3 separate regions of the Homo sapiens genome follow, and regions 1 and 3 are each linked to region 2. The links come from fine-mapping of genetic effects on gene expression. A gene starts in region 2. Each other region holds a variant in brackets. All regions are shown on one strand. Distances are from middle to middle.

Evidence for each region. PIP is the estimated chance that this variant, and not a neighbour inherited with it, causes the effect.
Region 1: its variant is the best candidate, but not a certain one, in a credible set for the expression of C5orf34-AS1 in sun-exposed skin (GTEx, PIP 0.81).
Region 3: its variant is the best candidate, but not a certain one, in a credible set for the expression of C5orf34-AS1 in subcutaneous fat (GTEx, PIP 0.64).

Annotation. Positions count from the first base shown.
Region 1 is chr5:43,722,625-43,730,782 of GRCh38, reverse strand. No RefSeq gene overlaps it. Among named protein-coding and RNA genes, the nearest start is that of NNT-AS1, 120 kb to the right of the region's middle. The variant G/T (reference allele first, on the strand shown) is at 4,644.
Region 2 is chr5:43,480,580-43,488,761 of GRCh38, reverse strand. C5orf34-AS1 (C5orf34 antisense RNA 1) reads right to left here and starts at 4,843. Exons shown (of 3, transcript XR_007058763.1): 1 at 4,761-4,843; 2 at 620-718. TMEM267 (transmembrane protein 267) reads left to right here and starts at 4,897. Exons shown (of 3, transcript NM_022483.5): 1 at 4,897-4,940. It overlaps C5orf34 (chromosome 5 open reading frame 34), which reads left to right. Exons shown (of 13, transcript NM_198566.4): 12 at 813-853; 13 at 1,651-2,053. The coding sequence ends at 1,847. RefSeq lists enhancers at 4,568-4,757, 4,023-4,866 and a silencer at 4,812-5,042.
Region 3 is chr5:43,580,482-43,588,666 of GRCh38, reverse strand. NNT-AS1 (NNT antisense RNA 1) reads left to right here. Exons shown (of 3, transcript NR_073113.1): 2 at 5,101-5,200. It also overlaps the pseudogene AMD1P3. Among named protein-coding and RNA genes, the nearest start is that of NNT, 19 kb to the left of the region's middle. RefSeq lists an enhancer at 7,429-8,175. The variant C/T (reference allele first, on the strand shown) is at 3,639.

The DNA of each region.
Region 1 (8,158 bases), 240 kb before region 2:
AAGTGAAACATGAAAAATGTTATGATCGCTAACATTTTTTAAATACCTACTAATGTGCCAAGCACAGTTCTAAGTCTTTTACATGTATTAACTCACAACAATCTTATGAGGTAGAAATTATGACAACTGCATTTTGTAAGATGAGGGAAAGGAAGGTTAGGGAGGTGAACTGCCAAGATTACACAGCTAGTAAGTGGCAGATCTGGGGTTTAAACCCAGGTAGTATGACTCCAGAGACTTTCCTTTTAACCTCTACTCTTTGATGTCCCTGAATAAAAGTAAAGGAATATTGCCTATCAGACAGCATTAGAAATCTAGACAACAACCCATTTCACAAGATAACATTAGGTAATGAAGCTATAATCTCATCATGGTAACAATTTAAATGATTTTGCCCCCAACCAAAGGTAATGTTGTATTTTAAGGAGAGTAAAGAAAATCTTTTAATTCATTAGGATTGTACAGTCAGCCCACAAAACTTTCAGAATTTGGTGATTGTAATCGTCTTAATGAGAATGAGTATTTTTTTCTTCCAAGAGTTTAACATTGTTACCAGAAAGTAATATGAGGTTTTCTCCAAGTAGTTTAACTTAACTATAAAGGTCTGTCTTAAAGTGTTCTAATTTTTCATTGTCTTTTTCTATTTAATTCACAAATTTCTCATTTCCCCTTAAGTGAATAAACCATAAACTCAAATATTTTTCTTCTCATTGGCTCACAAGCACCATCTAGTGAAAAAACAGAATAATTACAGAATAGTTTCTCATGGGAATCACTATTTACTTTGTATTAACAAAGCCCAATACAATACCATTTTTTCATTGTTCTAAAACAGAATGAGATGTGTTCAATGAAACGTTATAGACAGGGCTAAAATTTGCATTCAAAAGTTGTTATTGTTTTGAATTTGCAGATATTGAGAACTAGCTTGCTTTCTATTTCCAACCCCTATTGGCCTTCCCACTACCAGGGACTATGAGTTATCAGATAGCATTTAAGTGATAAATTTTATGGTACCAATATTGCAGAATTGTTTTTGAAATTTATTGTTCTGTATCAGCCCACCCTTTGCTCTCTCCCTTTTCCTTTTCATTTCTCGTGCTATGTTTTTAAAAATATATTCACCAAACCATCTATTGAGGACAACACTTGCCCTCAAGAAGTTCACAGTTTAGTAGATTTAGATGTTAGGGAAATAAAGTATTACAGGTATTATGATAGTGTATAGTGTATAGTAGAATTAATCAATTCAGATAGAATTGGCTACTATTTTGCAATTTATTGTAGATCAAGAAGCACATCTTATTATACAGCAGAAACTCTTTTAGCCAGCCTCCACTTAACCAACTCACTACATTAACTGAAGCTCTTCATTGCATCTGTAAAATATATTGATTAATTCCCACTGTATACTGAATGCTTTGGGCTAGTAGGCTACTCTAAAATGCTCGTGGACTTCTGTTGCTACCAGCTAATTGTATGCTTAACAAGAGGCAACTGGGTTTTGTTTCCAAACATGTTCATGCAAGATTTACTTGCAGTCACACAATATTAATTACACAATTTAATTAAATAATACATCAACCAATAAAATATAAGTTTAAGTACTATTGTCAAATCAGGTTGGAGTGAAACAACTATAAAAGATTTGAGGAAAATCATAAAAACTAAAAGAATTCTGCATTCAAATTGCATTGAAGATGTTTTTAGGTTTTTACTCTAATTTTAAAAAAAAACTTACTTGATGTCTATAGATATGTTTTATGCAAGAGAGACAGTGTGCAGCATTTCTAGTATCTCAAACCTTAAGATGAAGTGAACAATGATGACAAAAGGATTAATAACCAAGAACCATATAAAAAAGTGGCAAAGAGGCTTAAGAATAATGTCAAAAAAAGCAAAAGCACAAAGGGAGCTCAAGGCTGTGGAAAAAAACAATAAACTTCGCCCTTAAAATCATATTTAGCGAAAAATGAGAGCAGGAGATGTGCACATCTTTGGAGTATGGTAGATGATGTCATAGTAAGTAGCAGAGAGAAAGTTGATCTCAAATCCCATTTTCCTCTGTTTCCTGTAAAAGAGAGTGAAACTTAGATGGAAAAAAGACCCTTACAAAGGACCTCATAACTCCTCTAAATTGCGTTCAAATGAAACTTTCACATGCTATTTCCAAGCATAATTCCAGAGCATGCTTTGAGCTGACGGAATCTGTAGTCAGCCATCTTTAAAGAATCAAGACAAACTAGAAAAGTGTTACAAGTGTTACAAATATATTCCTGACCAAAAATGGCAAGAAGTGGATAGTGCAAATGATGGACTGGACTGTTAATCATCTTCAGCTACATTCCAGAACAAATTATTAAAATCTTAGACTATGAGAATTTTTAAAGGGAACCATGTTGAGTATGGATCAGAATTAGTTCATAGAAAACAAGTCCTACCAGAACTAACTCATTTCTGGGTTTGTGTATTTATTACGTTAGTCAGTTTCTTATTTTTGTGTGCTTTTAGAAGATATTTGACAAAGCTTCTAAGATATTTTTCTGGACAAAAAGTGAAGAAATATGAGTTCAATATACACAGTTGTTTCTACCTAAAGTACCCAGATTAACAGATCAGAGTCAGCCTTGGAGAAGAGCTTGGAATGCATGTTGCCCAGTTTTAGCCTAAGCCCTACAAAATGATGACATCTTTTTTCCCTCAGTGAATCCAGTGAGAAAATTGATGCTGTATTTGCAGGTGACACAAAATTAGAAGGAACAGTCAACACATTGGATGAAACAGAATCAGAAACCTGATCTCAGAGGATAGAAAATGGGCTCAAATGAGTCAAGTTAAAAAAAAAAAAAAACTACATGTGTAAATGGGAGAGAAATGGATTCACATCAGCAGCATGTGTAGAAAAAGATGAAGGGTTTTAGTTAAGTTCATTGTAAGAAAAAGAAGTGTCAAAAGAGTTCATGTTATCATAGACTGTATTAATTAAAGAATTAGTAGCTTAGAGAGGAGATGCCCAGAATAGTCTGTCAGTGGTGTCAAATGTTACAGAAATGTGCAAGAAAATGCATTTGAGATATGTATTTGGTGATGAGGTTATTGTTTACTTTCCAAAGTGATTTCAGTTAAATAATTAAGGTAGGGACCAAAAAAAAAATTTTTAAGGAGCAAACAGAATGTGAGCAAAAGTACCCATTAGAGGGCTTTGATTGGTAAAGGGAAGAAAATAACTTTTAGATAGAGAAGATAAGCTAATATTAGATTAATGTTAAGTACTCTTGTTTTTTTAAAAAAACTTTGAAATTTTATGCAATTTAGAGTAAAACAATTAAAATTCAAAAACTACATGCTTAGTATTCCTAGATTATTATCCAGCTTCAGCTGTGCTGTCTCTAATAATCAGTAATTTTTATATTTTATTTTAATTTTTTTTAAGATAAGCATATCAGAAAGACCAACTCTGGGTGATACAAAGGAACTAGAATATGGTTTAGCAGAATTATTGGAGTAGTAAAAAGAAAAGAGGAATCTAAACTGTGAGCAACAGCAGACAGAAAATTTTCTGCCTATCAGCTCTACCATAAAGAAACAACCTGTATAGGAAACATGGGCCAGAATGGAACAGAGAAAAGAGTCAGAAGATGATGAAGAACCCAGACAATAAAAAGAGGAGCACTAGAAGTAAAAGGAGGACAGAAATTCTGCCCAAACCAGGCTAGACTACAAGCTTCATAATTTTTGAATAAGGAAAGAGTAATAGTTAACACCGAACCACAATATGGTTTTCTAGTTGAATAATTTGTAGCTTGTTATGTGGATATGTATGCTTAGGTAGATAATGAGGACTACAGCTATACCATGAAAAAGAGAGGGAGAAGAAGAGAGAGAGAGAGGGAGAGAGAGAAAGGAAAAGAGAGGGAAGAAAGACAGGGAAAACTACTCAAGAGCAGCCTGCCCATAAAAAGGAGTACTACAGACCCTGGGAGTGAAGCACATGATCCTTCTCATGGCACCACACCAAAACAACTGATTCTGTATTTGTAAAGGGTGAAAAAATCTTTCTGAAAAATTGACTCTACCAAACACATGCATGAAGTTAAGCAAATGTCAAATTGGTACAATTACTATATTTCTTTGCTTCTTTGTTTAGTATCACAAAGAGTTCAAAAATTACAAATAGTTTCAACTTACTAAGAAGTTGTTTTCTAAATGTTAGTTGGCAAATCAGTTCTATGACAGCAAAGTGTTGTGGTTCAGAGTGGAGCCAGACAGCCCAGATTCAAATCCTGATGCCACCACCTACTTAATTAATTGGGCCCTGAGCTTCCACATCTATAAAATGGGATAGCTACTCAAAGGATTGTTCTGCTGTAATTAATAAGTTAGTATATTGAAAGTCTTTAGGACAGTGGTTGGTACTTAATCAGTGTTAAACAAATGTTAGCTATTGTAATTAGCATCCTTATAGAAAGAGGAACAGGAGCATAATAGGGCCGTGGCTATGGGAAAAAAACAGGAGAGAAATACCATGTCACCAGGAAACTGATGATAAACAGGCATAAGTCATTTTATTGTGCTTTAAGGCATTTTGCAGATATTGTGCTTTTTTACAAATTGAAAGTTTGTAGCAACCCTGCATTCAGCAA[G/T]TCTGTCAGCATCATTTTTCCAACAGCATGTGCTCACTTTGTGTCTTTGTGTCACATTTTGGTAATTCACATAATATTTCAGACTTTTATATTATTTTTATATTTGTTATGGTGATCTGTGATCAGTGATTTTAATGTTACTATTGTAATCGTTTTGGGATTGATAAATGTTGTGTGTGTTCTGACTGCTCCATCAACCAGCCATTCCCCAATCTCTCGCCTTCTCCTCAGGCCCTCCCTATTACCTAAGACACAATAATATTAAAATTAGGACAATTAATAACCCTATAATGGCCTCTTAAGTTTTCAAGTAAAAGGAAGAGTTGCACATCTCTCACATTAAGTAAAGAGATAGAAATGATTAAGCTAAGTGAGGAAGGCATCTTGAAGGCCAAGACAGGCTGAAAGCTATGCTTTTTGTGCCAGTTAACCAAGTTGTAAATGCAAAGGAAAAGTTCTTGAAAAAAATTAAAAGTGCTACTCCAGTGAACACGTGAATGATAAGAAAGTGAAACAGGCTTATGGCTGATATGGAGAAAACTTGAGTGGCCTGGAGAGACGATCAAACCAGCCACAACCTTTCATTAAGCCAAACCTAATCCAGAGCAAGGCTTAACTCTCTTCAATTCTCTGAAGGCTGAGAGAGGTGAGGAAGCAGCTACAGAAGAAAAGTAGAAAGCTAGCAGAGATTGGCTCATGAAGTTTAAGGAAAGAAGCCATCTCTGTAACATAAAAGTGCAAGGTAAAGCATCAAGTGCTGTTGTAGAAAGTGCAGCAAGTTATCCAGAAGATTTAGCTAAGATAATTGAAGGAGGTGATCGCGCTAAACAAAAGATTTTCAATATAAATGCAACAGCCTTCTACTGGAAGAAGATGACATCCAGGAATTTTGTAACTAGAGAGGAGAAATCAATATCTGGTTTCAAAGCGTCAAAGGACAGGCTGACTCTCTTGTGAGAGGCTAATGCAGGTGGTGACTTAAAGTTTATGCCAATGCTCATTTACCATTCTGAAAATTCTAGAGCCCTTAAGAATTATGCTAAACCTACTCTTCCTGTGCTCTAGAAATGAAACCGCAGAACCTGGATGACAGTGCGTCTGTTTACAGCATGGTTTACTGAATATTTTAAGCCCACTGTTGAAAACTACTGCTCAGAAAAATAGATTTCTTTCAAACTATTACTGCTTATTGACAATGCACCTACTTATCCAAGGGCTCTGCTGGAGATGTGCAAGCAGATTAATGTTATTTCATGCCTGCTAACACAAGAGTCATTCTGCAGCCCATGAGTCAGGAAGTAATTTTGACTTCCAAATCTTATTATTTAAGAAACACATTTTGTAAGACCATAGCTACCATAGATAGTAATTTCTCTGATGGATCTGGGCAAAGTCAATTGAAAAGCTTCTGGGAAGGATTCACCATTCTAGATACCATTAAGGACATTCATGATTCATGAGAAGAGGTCAAAATATCAATATTAACAGGAGTTTGGAAGAAGTTGATTATAACCCTAAAGGATGACTTTGAGGGGTTCAAGGCAGAATGGAGGAAGTAACTGCAGATGTGATGGAAATAGCAAGAGAACTAGAGTTAGAAGTGGAGCCTGAAGATGAGACTGAATTGCTGCAGTATCATGATCAAACTTTAACATATAAGGAGTTGCTTCTTATGGATGAGCAAAGAAAGTGAGATGGAATCTACTCCTGGTGAAGATGTTGTAAACACTGTTGAAATGACAACAAAGGATTTAGAGTAAACTTCGTTGATGAAGAAAGAGCAGGGTTTCAGACACCAATTTGAAAAGAGGTTCTATGAGAGTAAAATGCTATTACACAGCGTCACATACTACAGGGAAATCTTTCATAAAAGGAAGAGTCCATCAATGCAGCAAACTTCATTGTTGTCTTATTTTAAGAAATTGTCACAATCACCTCAATCTTCAGCCACCACTACCCTGACCAGTCAGGAGCCATTAACATCAAGGCAAGACCCTCCACCAGCAAAAAACTATATATATATATGACTCATTTATGGCTCTGATAATTGCATTTTGTAGCAATTTAAGTATTTTTAATTAAGGTATGTACATTTTTAAAGACATAATGCTATTACACACTTAGTTGACTATAGTTTAGTGTAAACATAACTTTTTTTTAATTTATTTTTTTTTAATTATACTTTAAGTTTTAGGGAACATGTGCACATTGTGCAGGTTAGTTACATATGTATACATGTGCCATGCTGGTGCGCTGCACCCATTAACTCGTCATCGAGCATTAGGTATATCTCCCAATGCTATCCCTTCCCCCTGCCCCCACCCCATAACAGTCCCCAGAGTGTGATATTCCCCTTCCTGTGTCCATGTGATCTCATTGTTCAATTCCCACCTATCAGTGAGAATATGCGGTGTTTGGTTTTTTGTTCTTGTGATAGTTTACTGAGAATGATGATTTCCAATTTCATCCATGTCCCTGCAAAGGACGTGAACTCATCATTTTTTATGGCTGCATAGTATTCCATGGTGTATATGTGCCACATCTTCTTAATCCAGTCTATCATTGTTGGACATTTGGGTTGGTTCCAAGTCTTTGCTATTGTGAATAATGCCACAATAAACATACGTGTGCATGTGTCTTTATAGCAACATGATTTATAGTCCTTTGGGTATATACCCAGTAATGGGATGGCTGGGTCAAATGGCATTTCTAGTTCTAGATCCCTGAGGAATCGCCACACTGACTTCCACAATGGTTGAACTAGTTTACAGTCCCACCAACAGTGTAAAAGTGTTCCTATTTCTCCACATCCTCTCCAGCACCTGTTGTTTCCTGACTTTTGAATGATTGCCATTCTAACTGGTGTGAGATGGTATCTCATTGTGGTTTTGATTTGCATTTCTCTGATGGCCAGTGATGATGAGCATTTTTTCATGTGTTTTTTGGCTGCATAAATGTCTTCTTTTGAGAAGTGTCTGTTGATGTCCTTCACCCACTTTTTGATGGGGTTGTTTGTTTTTCTCTTGTAAATTTGTTTGAGTTCATTGTAGATTCTGGATATTAGCCCTTTGTCAGATGAGTAGGTTGCAAAAATTTTCTCCCATTTTGTAGGTTGCCTGTTCACTCTGATGGTAGTTTCTTTTGCTGTGCAGAAGCTCTTTAGTTTAATTAGATCCCATTTGTCAATTTTGTCTTCTGTTGCCATTGCTTTTGGTGTTGTAGACATGAAGTCCTTCCCATGCCTATGTCCTGAATGGTAATGCCTAGGTTTTCCTCTAGGGTTTTTATGGTTTTAGGTCTAACATGTAAGTCTTTAATCCATCTTGAATTGATTTTTGCATAAGGTGTAAGGAAGGGATCCAGTTTCAGCTTTCTACATATGGCTAGCCAGTTTTCCCAGCACCATTTATTAAATAGGGAATCCTTTCCCCATTGCTTGTTTTTCTCAGGTTTGTCAAAGATCAGATGGTTGTAGATATGTGGCATTATTTCTGAGGGCTCTGTTCTGTTCCATT
Region 2 (8,182 bases):
AGGATAAAGAACACACACTTAGGGGTTCTGCTGGAGACGTATATATTAGCCCTCTACTCCATACCAGTTGTCCCACTATCTTTCTATAGAACATGGTATAAGAGCTAATGTTCATCATGTTAACCCTCTGTGCTTAAAAAAACAATGAAATAAGTAGGTAGTCTATTCCAGAAAGAATTTAATAAAAAATAGTTGTTTTGACACGTAATTCAACTATTTAAAAACTTGGATCTCCCATACCATCCATTCCCAAAGAGTTCCATATAAATGAGGTCTTAATATATGCACAAGTACAGAAAAGTAAAAAATCCTTTCTTCTGAGAGAAACAATCTAGGTAGGAAGAGCAGGAAGTTAAATAGTTCAAGAGAAGATATTACAAATAAGTATGTGATTAATTAATATGCTATAGGAATTCAAGGAAGGAGAGAGCAGTTCTTTCACAGAAGGAATGGGATTTTAATAGGTTTGTAAAGTTTGCGTAAACTTTAGGGAGGAAAGTAGAGTGTAAGCTAGGTTAGTACTAAGAAGTAACAGGAAGGCCCATTATCCTCAAACATCAATATTTGATTACAAATTCCTTGAAGTGGATTTACAAGGGGTAGACTTTTATTCACTTACCTTTAAAGGCACTCAGTAAGTATCAGTTGAGTCAAGTTGATTTGTTGCTAAATAAAGGTAACATAAAGAGAATTCTTCTGCGTTCTTCCGTTTAAAATTCTAATGAAAAAAAAAGTCAGGTATGCTTATTTGAAATATCATGAATACAAAAGAATCAGACAACTGAATGAATTTTTTCTTTTTCCTTGGACAGGTCTGTTGCTTCTGAACTTGAAAAGATACAGAAGTTTAACTGTATCCTTTAAACAGAATGCACTGTCCTACATAATTACTCTCTTTCATTCTAGGCTTAATTCATGACTTCAGTACTTTGTGAATATTAATCTATACTTAATATATTGCTAACCTTTATTGAGTCAGCAAATACCTAAGATTGTAATTTAAGATGGATCTTGTCCATAGAAGGTATAGCATGTTAACATTTATACTTTTCTTTGAGTTTAAATTGGGCAAAGAACAGTTAATTAGGGTTAAGGTCTCCTTTGGAGACTTTTTCACTTACATAATTATATAATAAAATTATAACTGTTTAAGACCTCTTTTTTTAAATGAAATATTTCATTCTGTACATTCTCACCCAATTCATCTAAATTTGTTTTCTCTTGTGGTTTTTCTCTAATCTTATTCAAATAAGTTAGTTCTATAGCGAACAGGTTTTTCACTCTAAATCTTTTTAAATTAAAAATAGACACTACACAGATTCCTTATAATCCTGTCATCCTACTCTTTAATTCCCGTGTCATTTCTTCACTTAAAGAAATGTTACTGAAATTTTCATTTCCTCCTTACCACCAAACCTCCACCCAAACACACACATACACACTCTATTCTCTTTCCCCCTCCCTTATACTGTAATTAGTTTCTTCATCTACAAGGAGCAGACTTGATAAGCCTTGCAGTTCCAACTGTATTATGAATCCAAGAGGTCTTCCAGCTGAGAAATATTTTAATATGAAGCCTATGCTTTCTGTATATAAAGATATTTATATAGTGAAAAATGTGGGGAAAACCTCCTTAACTAAGCAACTTAGTGCTACTAGAAAATAGTGGTATCCTAAACCAGATTTCTAACAAGAAAAATGAACAACAGTCTTTTGATCATTATAAACCAGGATCTTCAGAAACCTTGCTAGGAGAAGTTAATGAAAATAGAGTATCAATAGCATTGAAAAAAACCTCTGAAATCCTTCACGATATTGACTGTCTTCTATCAAACTCTAAAAAGTGAAAAATGGAATTATTACAACATATTATTAAAGTTTAAGGATGTTGTTTCAAGTGACTGGTATAAAATTACTAGTAAGCCAAGATATTGTACGTATTACCCCGGCACAATGATTGTGAAAGAACTGACATTTAACTTTGAAGGTATTTTTAACTTGTACATTTTTAAAATATGTATTTATATCTTAATAATAAATATTTCGAAGTTTTGAACGTTTCACATTTAATTCTTATTTCAGATTAACAAGAAAAAAAATTTGTAACATTATAAAGTTGTTGCTGTTTTTATCTTGTGGAGCATTCACTATTAATCTTCAGGTTTTTTCATTTTGTTTGTTTTTACTGTTTGAGATACGGTCTTGCTTTGTCACCCAGGCTGCAATGCAGTGGTGCAATCATAGCTCACTGCAGCCTTGAACTTGTGGGCTCAAGGGATCTTCCCACCTCAGCCTTCTGAGTAGCTGGAACCACAGACATGTACCACCATGCCTGGCTAATTTTTAAAAATTTTTTTTGTAGAGACAGGAATCTCCCTATCTTGCCCAGGCTGGTCTTGAACTCCTGGCTTCAAGCTATCCTCCTGCCTCCGTTTCCCAAAATGCTGGAATTACAGGTGTGAGCCACTGCACCCAGCCTCTTTTTTTTTAATATGCAGAATTGTGCATTTGTTCACTTGCTATTTGGTCCCTTTACTCCAAGTATTTTTCAGTAGAGCTATGAGACAAGAACTACATCTCAAAAACAAAAACGGAGACAAGCAACATTGTAAACTAAAAATCAGGCACTTTGGCAAAGACTGTATCTAAACTGTCTCATGAACCAGATACTTTCTTTTGAACACAGGAAAAGATTTATGCTGCAAAGTGTTTAACAGAAATGAGCTCACCAAAAGTGCTATTTATTATAAGCTTGTCTATTAAGAAAGAACAAAACCAAATATCTATAATGACGTCAAGATTACACCAAACACAACCAGAAATGTTCTAATTTTCTGATTTCTATAAAAGACCTGGCTCTTCAAATAAACGGGAAGCAGTAACAGAGAAAACGAGAAAAATGGGGAGAAGAGTGTAGATCAGGAATGATAATGTCACTAAGTTAAAGGGGCACAATGCCTTTTTTTTTTTTTAGTTCCTCTGACACTGGATTCCTTCACATTTCAATTCTCAAACAAGTACCATTTCCTCAAAAGGGCCTTCCTTACTACCTGACTAAAGTTAGCATCTCCCAAGTCTATTACATCACCCTATTTACTTCCTTTATAGTACTTATTACAATCTGTCTAGCTTGTTTCCTTGTGGCTCACACCCTCCACTAGAACTTGAGCTCCATAGTCATTCTGTAGCACACTGAGAGCACTCTGTTTGTATAAATGAATCAGTAAGCTGGGCACAGTGGCTCACGCCTGTAATCCCAACACTTTGAGAAGCCAAGGAGGGGGGAACACTTGAGCCCAGGACTTTAACACCAGCCTGGGCAACATAGCGAGATGCCCATCTCTACAAAAAACTTAATTACCTGCACGATGGCATGTGCCTGTGGTCCCAGCTACTCCAGAGGCTGAGGCCGGAGAATCCCTTGAGCCCAGGAGGTCAAGGCTGCAGTGAGCTATGATTGCACCACTGCACTCCAGCCTGGGTGACAGAGGGAGACCCTGTCTCAAAAAAAAAAAAAAAAAAAAAAGGAATAAACATCTACAGGCAGTAGACCGACTACAGAGAAAAGAACTACTATTACATTGTTTGGGTTTGCATGAAGCCATCTATGTTGTTCCTCAATAGCTCCATAAAGCCTAGATTATAAGACTTTGTACCACACTGCCAAAAGGGTAATGCCAAATTATTACTGCATTCAGAAGGAGAAAATTTGTCCTTAACATGGCTAAAAGCACTCAAAATTATAAATACATTTGCTGAAAGATACTTTAAATTCTCATTTAAGGTGTGTGGGAGTTAAAAGGTGTTTAATTTTCCCTGTCAGTTGGGTGTTTTACATTGGCTAAGAACCAAGACTGTGACAAGAAATGAGTTCTATGATTGAGAAACTCTAAGATTCTGGGGGTGGCCTAGGAGTTTACTTTGAGATTGAAATTTATTTTCTATGGTCAACTGTATAATTACGATGATACCACCCCTTGCTTTCCATCTGACACTTGGTTTGAGAAACTGTAGGTAGGAAAGGGAAAGAAGAATGTCCCTCCTTGGGCCTCTTCTTTTGGGCCTGTGCTTCCTAGAGTCAAATGTCAAGCTGGTATTTCCTTGGTGCTAAGAGCAACCACCACTCTGAGGCAGAGACGGGATGGGACCTAGCCAAAGTCCCAGTAAACAAACTGTATCTTGTAAGCGCAATTTAATTAGGGTCAAACTATTCTGTATGGACTTGCTTTTTCGACTTCTGAGGATTTAGTAGTCATGATTAAGTGCTGTCACGCTACTGCGATCTACAAACAGTAGCTCCACAACATCCGCCCGCATCGTGGCAAAGAATTATCAAGAAATCCCCAAGGGGGCGGTGAGGAGCCGCCGGTCGGCCAGGTCGCCCGGTCCCTCAGTCTGGTGAAAAGCTCCGTTGCCCACCCTGAGGGCTTCGCGGAAGGAAGTTGGCCGTATCGCTGCACCTTAGAGATGCGACGGCCGAGGCTCCCAGCTCAAGCTTCTGGTAGTAAGGCCTGTGTGCCTGGCATTCGGGGAGGCCACTTTTCTATCCCCAGCTTCCGGGCCACCACTTGGGTGCGTCGTGGGGATGTCGGCAGCTACGTTTGCGGCACAGCTCCGGCTAAACTGAAAAACGAATCCTCAGGTTTGACAAAACTAAACTAAAAAGACACTTTTCTCCTCTCACTCTGACGTCCCAAAAGTTTCCTTTTTAGGGGTCGGGGCCTACGGTGGGCGAGGAGAAACTCGAGGTATCTACCCACCGCACCAAACAACTCATGCGTCGCTTCCTTTCGACTTGGAGCTGGCCAGTATCCCGGCGTCCTCTCGGCCGACGCTGCGGTCTGAGGCCACTCTGGCCGGCAGCCGACGTCTCTATGGCTCCGACCGAGGGGCGGAGCCGCTGCTCGAGCTGCTGCTGGATTGAACTCAGAGAAGCCGGGGTGGGTATGGCTGAGCCGCTGCGTGGGACTGAGGGGAGGGGGCCGGGTGGACGCCGCGGAACTGCGTCCTGAGGTGGGAGACCGGAGGTGGGGGACCACTGAGTCTGATGTCTGGAGGGTCCGGTTGCGGGTCGGAGGGCGTGCTGGAACAGCCGCCACGCGGGAGCCAGGAGCCTCCTGGGTGCGTGTGACCCACGAGCCGGCACCGTCCCGCGGCCCTGGGGTCTGCGAGGAGCCCTGGCGCCGCCCTCCGGCTTCGCGCTTTTTCTAGATCCCTAGAACCCCAGCCCTCCGCCTACGCTCCGCGCCCCTGGCCTTTTTCTGGCCCAGGGTGGGGTTCCGGGAGTCGTGCCGAAGGAGCCCATTGCCGTCCTTAACCGGTTGTAAGAGCCTTTCGTGCCCCGGAGCCTTTGAGGCTTGAATGCTGAGAGTGTGACATGGTCCTTTCCCTGCAGCCTGGCCCATTTTTTTAAATGACATTTGAAAAATTATTGCATCACACCAGACTCAGAAAAGGATGTCTGGGAACTTCTGAGGCTTGAAACATGTTGAAATACAGAATTTTGTTTTATTCGTAATGGGCATAGGAACTAAACATTTTAAGTGCAGACATCTGATGGCTATAAAAAGTTTCAGTGAAAGTAAGCAAGATTTGTGTTTCCTTTGTCAGTTAGTTGCATCAGATTTGGCATCTGCTTTTGATATTTTTCCATTAAAGAAATTAAATATATTAAGTTTACAGCAACTACAGTTCAGTGAAGAAGACTTACTGGTAAAGCATAATAAAGGCGGTTTCTGGAATTTGGACCGTGTTTTGACCTTGGGTTTTTGCATATAATGTGTAAGGTTGGTGGGGAAGAGGGAAAGTTAAAACAGATGACACTTACTTAGAGAATGTATCAGCTCTTATTTGTTTTGACAGAAATAATGTCTAAGAGATTATTAGCAAACAATACATGATAGCGTATAATTAAAGTGACCAGCTAATTATATGTTTGTGGAATTCAGGAAGGAGAAAAGTACTGTTATGTATACTCTGAAGGCCCCAAAGTTAGTGGTATTTGCTATAAGGGGGATGGGGTGTGACAAAGTTTGGCCATTGCAGAAAATGGCTTCTGCGAGTCATAGGGAGGAATTTATAATATGTCAGTTATGTCAGAGAAGCTATCCCAAACAGTATCTTTAGTTCATAGGCTGCGGATTTATTATGTGATTATCTCTTGTATTAGTAAAATGGAATATTTATTAAATACCTTGAGCACACTGGATTTTTAAACATGACAAGTTTAAAAGAGATCACTACTCTTAAGGAACCTTATCAACAAAAGTGAATATGTAAAAGGAGGTTCGGGAGTCCGTTTTATTTGTAGGGGGAGGAATAGGAAGTGGAAAAGGAAATAAAAAGTTTAAGAAGAAAAATGGGTACCCTTAGGTGTATTATTCAGAGACAATAAGTAATACAGGAAGAACACTTAGTAAATTTCTCTTTTTCTAATACTCAGACTCTGAGCCAGATGTTAAATATCTGCACCAAAAGTTGGAGTAGAATAGATGCCAGAAATGTGGGGTTCTGGAACTGCAATTATACCTTCCTTAAAAATAGAAATAGTTCTCTTCTACGTATCTATTGTGTAATAAATTACACCAAAACTTAGAGGCTTAAAACAGTAGACAGTAGGGGCCAGGCGCCGTGGCTCACGCCCGTAATCCCAGCACTTTGGGAGGCCGAGGCGGGCGGATCACGAGATCAGGAGATCGAGACCATCCTGGCTAACACGGGTGAAACCCCGTCTCTGCTAAAAATACAAGAAATTAGCCGGGCGTGGTGGCGGGCGCCTGTAGTCCCAGCTATTCGGGAGGCTGAGGCAGGAGAATGGCGTGAACCCGGGAGGGGGAGCTTGCAGTGAGCCGAGATCATGCCACTGCACTCCAGCCTGGGTGACAGAGCGAGGAACCATCTCACACAAAACACAAACAAACAAAAAACAGTAGACAATAATTTTATTCTTTCTGTGGGGTCAAGACTTAGCTGGCGGTTCTGGCCCAGGGTCTCATGAAGTTGCAGTCAGGATGTCGGCAGTGGCTGCGGACATCTGAAGGGTTGACTGGGGCTGAAGGATCTGCTTCCAAGTTCACTGTGAGCTTTTTCCTTCCTCTTTCATCAGCAAGCTGTTTTGTACTTTCCATTGGTAAAATGCATTCGCATTATACCCATTATATATAATATATGTGTTCCTATTCGTAAACCGTGATACAGTTTTTTGTAAACAGTAAATTTTGCTTGTTGAGGTCGCTTTAAATTTGGATCATCATGTAAATACTTCAAGTAATCTTTTGATTTTTCACTTTGCTCACGACACTTTATTAGCAAACTAATCCTTTTAAAATCTGAACTCATCATGTAAAATGTAGAGTTAGTAGGTTCGGTGTGGTAGTTTCTGCCTGTAGTCCCAGCACTTTGGGAGGCCAAAGTGGAAGGATCACTTGAGGCCAGGAGCTGAAGACCAGCCCGGGCAACACAATGAGACCCCATCTCTACAAAACACTTTAAAAACAAAAATCTAGCCAAGTATAGTTGTGCATTTCTGTAGTCCTAGCTACTCAGGAGGCTGAAGCAGGAGCCCATGAGTTCAAGGTTACAGTGAGCTATGATCGTGCCACTACACTTCAGCTTGGGCAACAGAGATACCTTGTCAAAAAAAAAAAAAAAAAAAAGTAAGCCGGGCGCAGTGGCTCACGCCTGTAATCCTAGCACTTTGGGAGGCCGAGGCGGGCGGATCACGAAGTCAGGAGATCGAGACCATCCTGGCTAACATGGTGAAACCCCGTCTCTAGTAAAAATACAAAAAATTAGCTGAGCGTGGTGGCGGGCACCTGTAGTCCCAGCTACTCGGGAGGCTGAGAGGCAGGAGAGTGGCATGAACCCGGGAGGCAGAGCTTGCAGTGAGCCGAGATCGCGCCACTGCACTCCAGCCTGGTCGACAGAGCAAGACTCCGTCTCAAAAAAAAAAAAAAAAAAAAAAAGTAAGATTATTAACATTTAAATATATATTGTGATTATTAAAAATTGCTTCATGAGTGAAAGAAAATATAATGCACTGGCTTTATAAGGACATCATGAAATTTGCAGTTAAGTGGATATTGGCTTTTTATTTTTGTCTTCCTTCTGGAATGAGGGTTGAAAATAAATTTGTAATTGGGTCAGGCTCAGTGGCTCACTCCTGTAATCCCAGTGCTTTGGG
Region 3 (8,185 bases), 100 kb before region 2:
TTTTTTTTTTTTTTAGACAGAGTCTCGCTCTGTCACCAGACTGGAGTGCAGTGGCTTGATCTCGGCTCACTGCAACCTCCGCCTCCCAGGTTCAAGCGATTCTCCTGGCTCAGTCTCCCAAGTAGCTGGAATTACAGGCACCCACTACCATGCCCAGCTAATTTTTGTATTTTTAGTAGAGACGGGGTTTCACCATGTTGGTCAGGATGGTCTCGATCTCCTGACCTCGTGATTCGCCCGCCTCGGCCTCCCAAAGTGATGGGATTACAGGCGTGAGCCACCGCGTCCGGTCATTTTATTAGTCTTTAAAAAAAAAAAGGAACCTGAACTTTTCTAACACAGCTGGAACAATTCACAGCAGCCGCGGCAGCCGCAGCAGCAGAAGAAAAGGTTTAATTTAGTTGATTTTCTGTGGTTGTTGATTGTTCGCCAGTCTCATGGTGATGGAAGCTGTACATTTTTCCGAAGGGACCGAGAAGCGGCTGGAGGTTTGGTTCTCCTGGCAGCAGCCCAATGCAAACCAAGGATCTGGGGATCTTCGCACTATCCCAAGATCTGAGTGGGACTTTTTTTTTTTTTTTTTTTTTGAGACGGAGTCTCGCTGTGTCGCCCAGGCTGGAGTGCAGTGGCACGATCTCGGCTCACTGCAACCTCGGTCTCCCAAGCTCACGCCATTCTCCTGCCTCAGCCTCATGAGTAGCTGGGACTACAGGCGCCCGCCACCACGCCCGGCTCATTTTTCGTATTTTTAGTAGAGACGGGGTTTCACCGTGTTAGCCAGGATGGTCTCGATCTCCTGACCTCGTGATCTGCCTGCCTCAGCCTCCCAAAGTGCTGGGATTACAGGCGTGAGCCACCGCGCCCGGCCAAGTGGGACATACTTTTGAAGGATGTGCAACGTTCAATGATAAGTGTGACAAAAACTGACAACCAGGAAGCTTGTGTACTCAGTGAGAGTAGCATGTTTGTCTCCAAGAAACGTTTCATTTTGAAGACACGTGGTACCACTCTCTTACTGAAAGCGCTGGTTCCCCTGTTGAAGCTTGCTAGGCATTACAGTGGGTTTGACTCAATTCAAAGCTTCTTTTATTCTTGTGAGAATTTCATGAAGCCTTCCCCCTAAGGGTACCTACACTAGAATTTCCAGGAAGAAATAGAGTTTCTTAATGCAATTTTCCCAAATGGAGCAGCATATTGTATGGGAAGTATGAATTCTGACTGTTGGTACTTACGTACTCTGGATTTCCCAGAAAGGTAATCAGTCAGCCAGATCAAACCCTGGAAAATTTGATGAGTGGGCTTGACCCAGCAGTTATGGACCAGTTCTACATGAAAGATGGCGTTACTGCAAAGGATGTCATTTGTGAGAGTGGAATTCACAACCTGATACCAGGTTCTGTCATTAATGCCACAATGTTCAATCCTTATGGGTATTCGATGAATGGAATGAAATCAGATGGAACTTATTGGACTATTCACATCACTCCAGAACCAGAATCTTTTTATGTTAGCTTTGAAACAAACTTAAGCCACCTCCTATGATGACCTGATCAGGAAAGCTATGGAAGGCTTCAAGCCAGGAAAATTTGTGATCACTTTGTTAATCAGAGTTCTAAATGTCGCGCCGTGTTTTCTTCACCTCAGAAGATTGAAGGTTTTAAGCGTCTTGATTGCCAGAGTGCTATGTTCAATGATTACAATTTTGTTTTTACCAGTTTTGCTAAGAAGCAGCAATAACAGCAGAGTTGATTAAGAAAAATGAAGAAAAAAATGCAAAAAGAGAACACACGTAAGAAGGTGGTGGATGCTTTCTAGATGTCGATGCTGGGGTCAGTGCTTTCCATAACCACCACAGTGTAGTTGCATAAAGCCCTATATGTAATGATAGTGTAATCATTTTGAATTGTATGCATTATTATATCAAGGAAATAGATATCTTGCACGAATGTTCGCTTCTGTGTTTAGGTATTCTCTGCCACTCTTGCTGTGAAATTGAAGTGCATGTAGAAAAAACCTTTTACTATATGAAACTTTATAACACTTGTGAAAGCAATTCAATTTGGTTTATGCACAGTGTAATATTTCTCCAAGTATCATCCAAAATTCCCCACAGACAAAGCTTTCATCCTCATTAGGTGTTGGACTCAGCCTAACCGTCTAGGACTGTTCTATTAAATTGCTGCCAGAATTTTACATCCAGTTACCTCCACTTTCTAGAACATATTCTTTACTAATATTATTGAAACCAATTTCTACCTCATACAGAGGTTTTTTAAAACAGCAATTAAAGTTTTTCTTCCATGAAAAAAAAAAAAAAGAAAGAAAATCGGTCTCTTTCTCTTTAAGAGAATTTGAATTTGATCCAATTGCTTTTGACACCCTAGCAGCAAGTCCTTTGAGATGCTTGCCATTGTCCCCATGTCTAACAAGGATCTCCACTAGACACAGAAGTTTTTCTAAATCTATCAAGAGCCTAGTTAATTTTTCTTTCAAATGCCTACCTCCCTTTTCCCTCAAGAAAGGTCAGTAGGGCAATCACCACTAATTCCTGCAAAGAAGGCATAAGTACAGTTACCATGGCATAACGAAAATGAATTATCAGATATGAGTGGACAGTAGAGAGATGGATGGCTGCATCCACTAGCAAATGGAATGCAACAAAAGAGGAGTTTTTGTTTGTTTGTTTGTTTGTTTGTTTTTGAGACGGAGTCTGGCTCTGTCCCCTAGGCTGGAGTGCAGTGGCACGATCTCAGCCCACTGCAAGCTCCGCCTTCCGGGTTCACGCCATTCTCCTGCCTCAGCCTCCTGAGTAGCTGGGACTACAGGTGCCCGCCACCACACCTGGCTAATTTTTTTGTATTTTTAGTAGAGACAGGGTTTCACCACATTGGCCAGGATGGTCTCGAACTCCTGACCTCGTGATCCGCCAGCCTCGGCCTCCCAAAGTGCTGGGATTACAGGCTTGAGCCACCGCACCCGGCCAAAAGAGGAGTTTTAATAAGCAAATTATTGAAGGAGAGATTAAAATAAGGAAATAGGATTCTTATAGTCTGAATTCCACAAAAAGTGAAGAAAGCATTTTGGAGAAAAAATGGGATGACAAAGACAACAAGAAAAAATGAGACCAAGATCCCCCAAGGATGGGACTCTAACCCACAATCCTAGAGGGGATACCTAGATCCCTCTAGAGTGGGACTCTAACCCACAATCTTAGAGGGCCAAAAGCAGTTAATGCTGAAAAACCTGGAGCATCCAGGCATCAACCAATGACGGTCCCCCACATCAAATGCTACACATCCCAGAACAACCTGGAGGCAGACAACAGTGAACCCCAAAGGCACAAGCCCAAGGTCCTCAATGGTGGGATTCTCACCCACAATCCTATGGGGACAATTCCAAAACAATTGGGGGCACAGAACAGCATGACTCCAACATTCCAAAGTCAGCACAATGGGGGATCACTCATAATAACAAAAGAAAAAATGCAGCCAGGCGCAGTGGCTCACACCTGTAATCCCAGCACTTTGGGAGGCTGAGGCAGGTGGATCATGAGGTCAGAAGTTTGAGACCAGCCTTACCAACATGGGGAAACCCCGTCTCTACTAAAAATACAAAAATTAGCCAGGCATGGTGGCGCA[C/T]GCCTGTAATCCCAGCTACTCAAGAGCCTGAGGCAGGAGAATTGCTTGAACCTGGGAGGCAGAGTTTGCAGTGAGCCGAGATCACGCCACTGCACTCCAGCCTGGGTGACAGAGCAAAACTATGTCTTGGAAAAAAAAGAAAAAAAAAAGAAAAAAATGCAAAACAAGGAAACTGTCCTACCTCATATAACATAGAAACAATTGCCCAAATAGCAGGGGAAACAAAGGAGACACCTATCCATGGAGGGCAAATGGTGCTGATTGATGTTAGTAGGGGGGCGTCCAGTGAAGGTCTCCTGCAGTTCCCCTCGGCTTGTTAATCCCTTCATGGGTTCCAGGAAAGATGATGCAGGTGAATCCCAAAACTGGGGCTCAGCCCAGGAGGGTTCTTGGCTTCATGCAGGAAGGAATTCAAGGGTGAGCCAACAGAGTAAAGTGAAAGCAAACCAAGTTTATTAAGAGCAACAGAATACAGGAAAATGGCTGCTCCATAGATAGAGCAGGGCTACCCCATAAGCAGAGTAGCACTCATGGATTGCTGACTAACTCTATTTATAGCTACTCCTTAATTATATGCTAAATAAGGGGCAGGTTATTCATAAATTTCCTAGAAAAGGATGAGGAGTTCTCAAAACCAAAGGTTCCTCCTCTTTTAAACCATATAATAGCTTCTGGACATTGCCATGGCATTTGTAAACTGTTATGGCACCAGTGTGAGTATCTTTTAGCATGCTAATGTATTATAATTAGTGTATAACACAGATCAAGGGCAATTAGAGATCACATTCGTTGCCATCTTGGTTTTAGCTGATTTAGCTGATTTATTTAATGCCTCCTGTTTTGATTAGCAAGGTTGTGACCAGTGTTTGGAAAACAAGTCCTGCTGATCTACCTCTATATAAGATAATTAAATTAGATAATCCATGTAAAGTGTTCATTTGGAACATAGTAAATGCTAAATATTAGCTATTATTATTGTTATTATTTTCCTCCCAATATGCAAATTTAGATGGATAATAAAATTATAAGAAGAAGATTGCTTAGCACTAGATTCCCAGAAGTGGTTTATTCATTAGTTTAATGGCCTCAGGCAGGATACACCCACTGCAGCATCTAGAGTGCTCAATCTCAGGAAAGGGTGCACTTTCATGGACTCTTCAGAATCCTACTATTATTTCACATCTCTGCAACTGTAGGCTGTCAGAAAAACAATACTCCAATACAAAGGCTTCAAAAGCAAGTCTCTCTGACCTTCTATCCTCCTGCCTCTGGCCCCTCATTCTCCCAAGGCTAGCCTTAGAAACTAGAATTTTTCTTCCTCAAGGCAGGTCATAGAAACTAGAACCCCATTTCCCCAACACCAGGCATAAAACCTAAAAGTATTATCCTAACGTTCCCCCAACATTTTTGTGTAAAAATCAGCCATAAAAAAAATTATTTGACCTACCTTGTTTGATTGCAGGTCTAAAGACCCTCATTCCAGAGAGCATCCTGCCCCATATCCAGAATGAAATCCATGCTCAGAGATGCCAAGAAGAATCTAGACAGACAGGCCTTTCTAGGTAGGTTTCCCCACTCGGTCTTTAGCATTAGATCTTACCCTTTTTGTCCAATCATATTTCTACATAGCTGCCCATACTTTGTTGAACCTAATGATAAAAATGGACAGTTTCCTCTATATCTTTGGGTCCGCATTCTAAAGGCTCCTGTGTCAGGTACAACTCTAACCAAATAAATTTATATGCCTTTTCTCCTAGTAATATGTGATTTTCAGCAAAACTTCAGAAGGCAAAGGGAAAGATTTCCCAGCCCCTAACCAACATTTGGCACTCGTAAGCTCTTCCTCTTTAACCTTCTATTCTCCACTGGCTTCTGTCATTTTATTCCTATGTAAATGAAGAAAACAGATTTCTCTTCTTCAATCCAGCCATTAAACTTGATAATTTTCTCTTCTCTTCTGTCTCACTTTTCCTAAGTAATCTCATTTCTTCCTGTGGCTTCAGCTATCAAATCTCTAACTCAAGCAACATTGCTCTGAGTGCCAACACCATAAATTTAACTCTCCTCTGAAGAACTCTACTTGGATGCTCCAGGTACCAAATGAAATATCCAAAACGGAAGAAAGGAGAGTCCCTTCATTTCCTGAATCTGCTCCCTTCTGGTATTCCGAATCTTATAGGCTGAGGCACCAAAGCCAGAATCCTGAAAGTCATCCTGATCTCTGGCCTCTCACTAATGACTCACATACAATCTCTCAACATCTGTCAACTTCTTCCTAAAAATCTCTTAAATGTGGCCCTTCTGTCCAACCCCACTACTACTAGCTTAGTAGCTACCATCATTTCTCACCAGAATTTCTACAATAGCCACTGAACTTGTTTTCTGCTTCATGTCTCATATGCCTCCAACCTACCAATCTCACACCCCTGCTTATCCTCAGCACCTGGAACAGTGTCTGGCATGAAGTAGACACAAATCAATATTTGTTGAATGAACAAGCGAATGAATCAATTCCTATCATAGAGCCCAAGGAAAAACTTCCCCTTTGCCCTCTGAAGTTTTGTTGAAAAGTCAACTGACAAAAAAAGCAGATTAAAAGAAGAAATGACATGAGGAATAATTACTCTGTGGTTCTCCTTTGTGGGTATGTTAATAAATTTCTGTGCCATTTCTCCTATTAAGCTGCCTTTTATCAGTTGATTTTTCAGTGGACCTTCAGAGGGCAAAGGGGAAGTTTTTGCTTGGCTCCTATAGTTTTGGTGCTGTGAGCAGTATACCAAAACTATTCTGCTCTTAAGCCAGAGTGAAGGGAACCCAGGACCTGACTAGCTGCCAGAAGAACAAGAATTTCTTACCGGCCAAGCTTCTGGCCTCTCTTTCTGTGGAATCTGATCAAGTTGACAGTTAAAATCCCTGTTTGTCTCTTTTCTCTGCAAAATCTTGATTAATGGGAGACAAGGATTTGTGTGAGTAGTCTTGGGTGTTGTGACTCTGGTGTAATTTTTGGTTTAAGTATTCATATTATTTGATCCTTTTTGTCCCAGAAATCAACTTTTTCTTTCTTTGTCTTTCCGTGTTGTTATGTCATAAAGAAGGGTACCAAGCATGAGGTAGAACATAGGCCTAAAGCCTTTATAAGCCCATTTTTCCAGCCAGCCTTGCGGACTTGTCAGAATTGTAGTTCTGACCAGAACAGCATATAAACTTTGTTGTGGGCCCCCAAAATAAAAACCATATGAGATTCCCCTTTCATCTTGTTTTATATCCTTGAAAGTGTGGCTGGTGACAAAGTGGGAGCACTCTCTCTTGGTCTCCACTATCTATGAGGCATGATTTTCAGGTCATATAAGGTGACCAGTCTGAAAATGGCTGGGACGTGAGACATGTAAGATTTTAAGCAGCACACTTTTTGTTATGAATGTGTCAAGCTCTCAGGGGAGTTTGTCTTAAAAGTCCCATCACTGTGGGCTTTTGTCATCTCAACTCTTGTTGCTTGGTTCTAAACAATTGCCTTCTTTGTGTTTATAGACAGACCAAATTAAAATAAAGACATATAATAGTATCATGGCTAACCTTAGAAATTCTCTTGACAAAATTAAACAGCAAAAATCTGACCTAACACAAAGTGAAAATCATAACTGAAGGGGTGGGTTGCCCCTCCACACCTGTGGGTGTTTCTCGTTAGGTGGAACGAGAGACTTGGAAAAGAAAAAGACACAGAGACGAAGTATAGAGAAAGAAAATAAGGGGACCCAGGAAACCAGCGTTCAGCATATGGAGGATCCCGCCAGCCTCTGAGTTCTCTTAGTATTTATTCATCATTTTTGGGTGTTTCTCAGAGAGGGGGATGTGGCAGGGTCATAGGATAATAGTGGAGAGAAGGTCAGCAGATAAACACGTGAACAAAGGTCTCTGCATCATAGACAAGGTAACGAATTAAGTGCTGTGCTTTAGATATGCATACACATAAACATCTCAATGCCTTACAAAGCAGTATTGTTGCCCGCATGTCCCACCTCCAGCCCTAAGGCAGTTTTCCCCCATCTCAGTAGATGGAACATACAATCGGGTTTTATACCGAGACATTCCATTGCCCAGGGACGGGCAGGAGACAGATGGCTTCCTCTTGTCTCAACTGCAAAGAGGCATGCCTTCCTCTTATACTAATCCTCCTCAGCACAGACCCTTTACGGGTGTTGGGCTGGGGGATGGTCAGGTCTTTCCCTTCCCAGGAGGCCATATTTCAGACTATCACATGGGGAGAAACCTTGGACAATACCTGGCTTTCCTAGGCAGAGGTCCCTGGGTACTTGAGATTAGGGAGTGGTGAAGACTCTTAATGAGCATGCTGCCTTCAAGCATCTGTTTAACAAAGCACATCTTGCACCGCCCTTAATCCATTTAACCGTAAGTTGACACATCACATGTTTCAGAGAGCACGGGGTTGGGGGTAAGGTTATAGATTAACAGCATCTCAAGGCAAAAGAATTTGTCTTAGTACAGAACAAAATGGAGTCTCCTATGTCTACTTCTTTCTACACAGACAC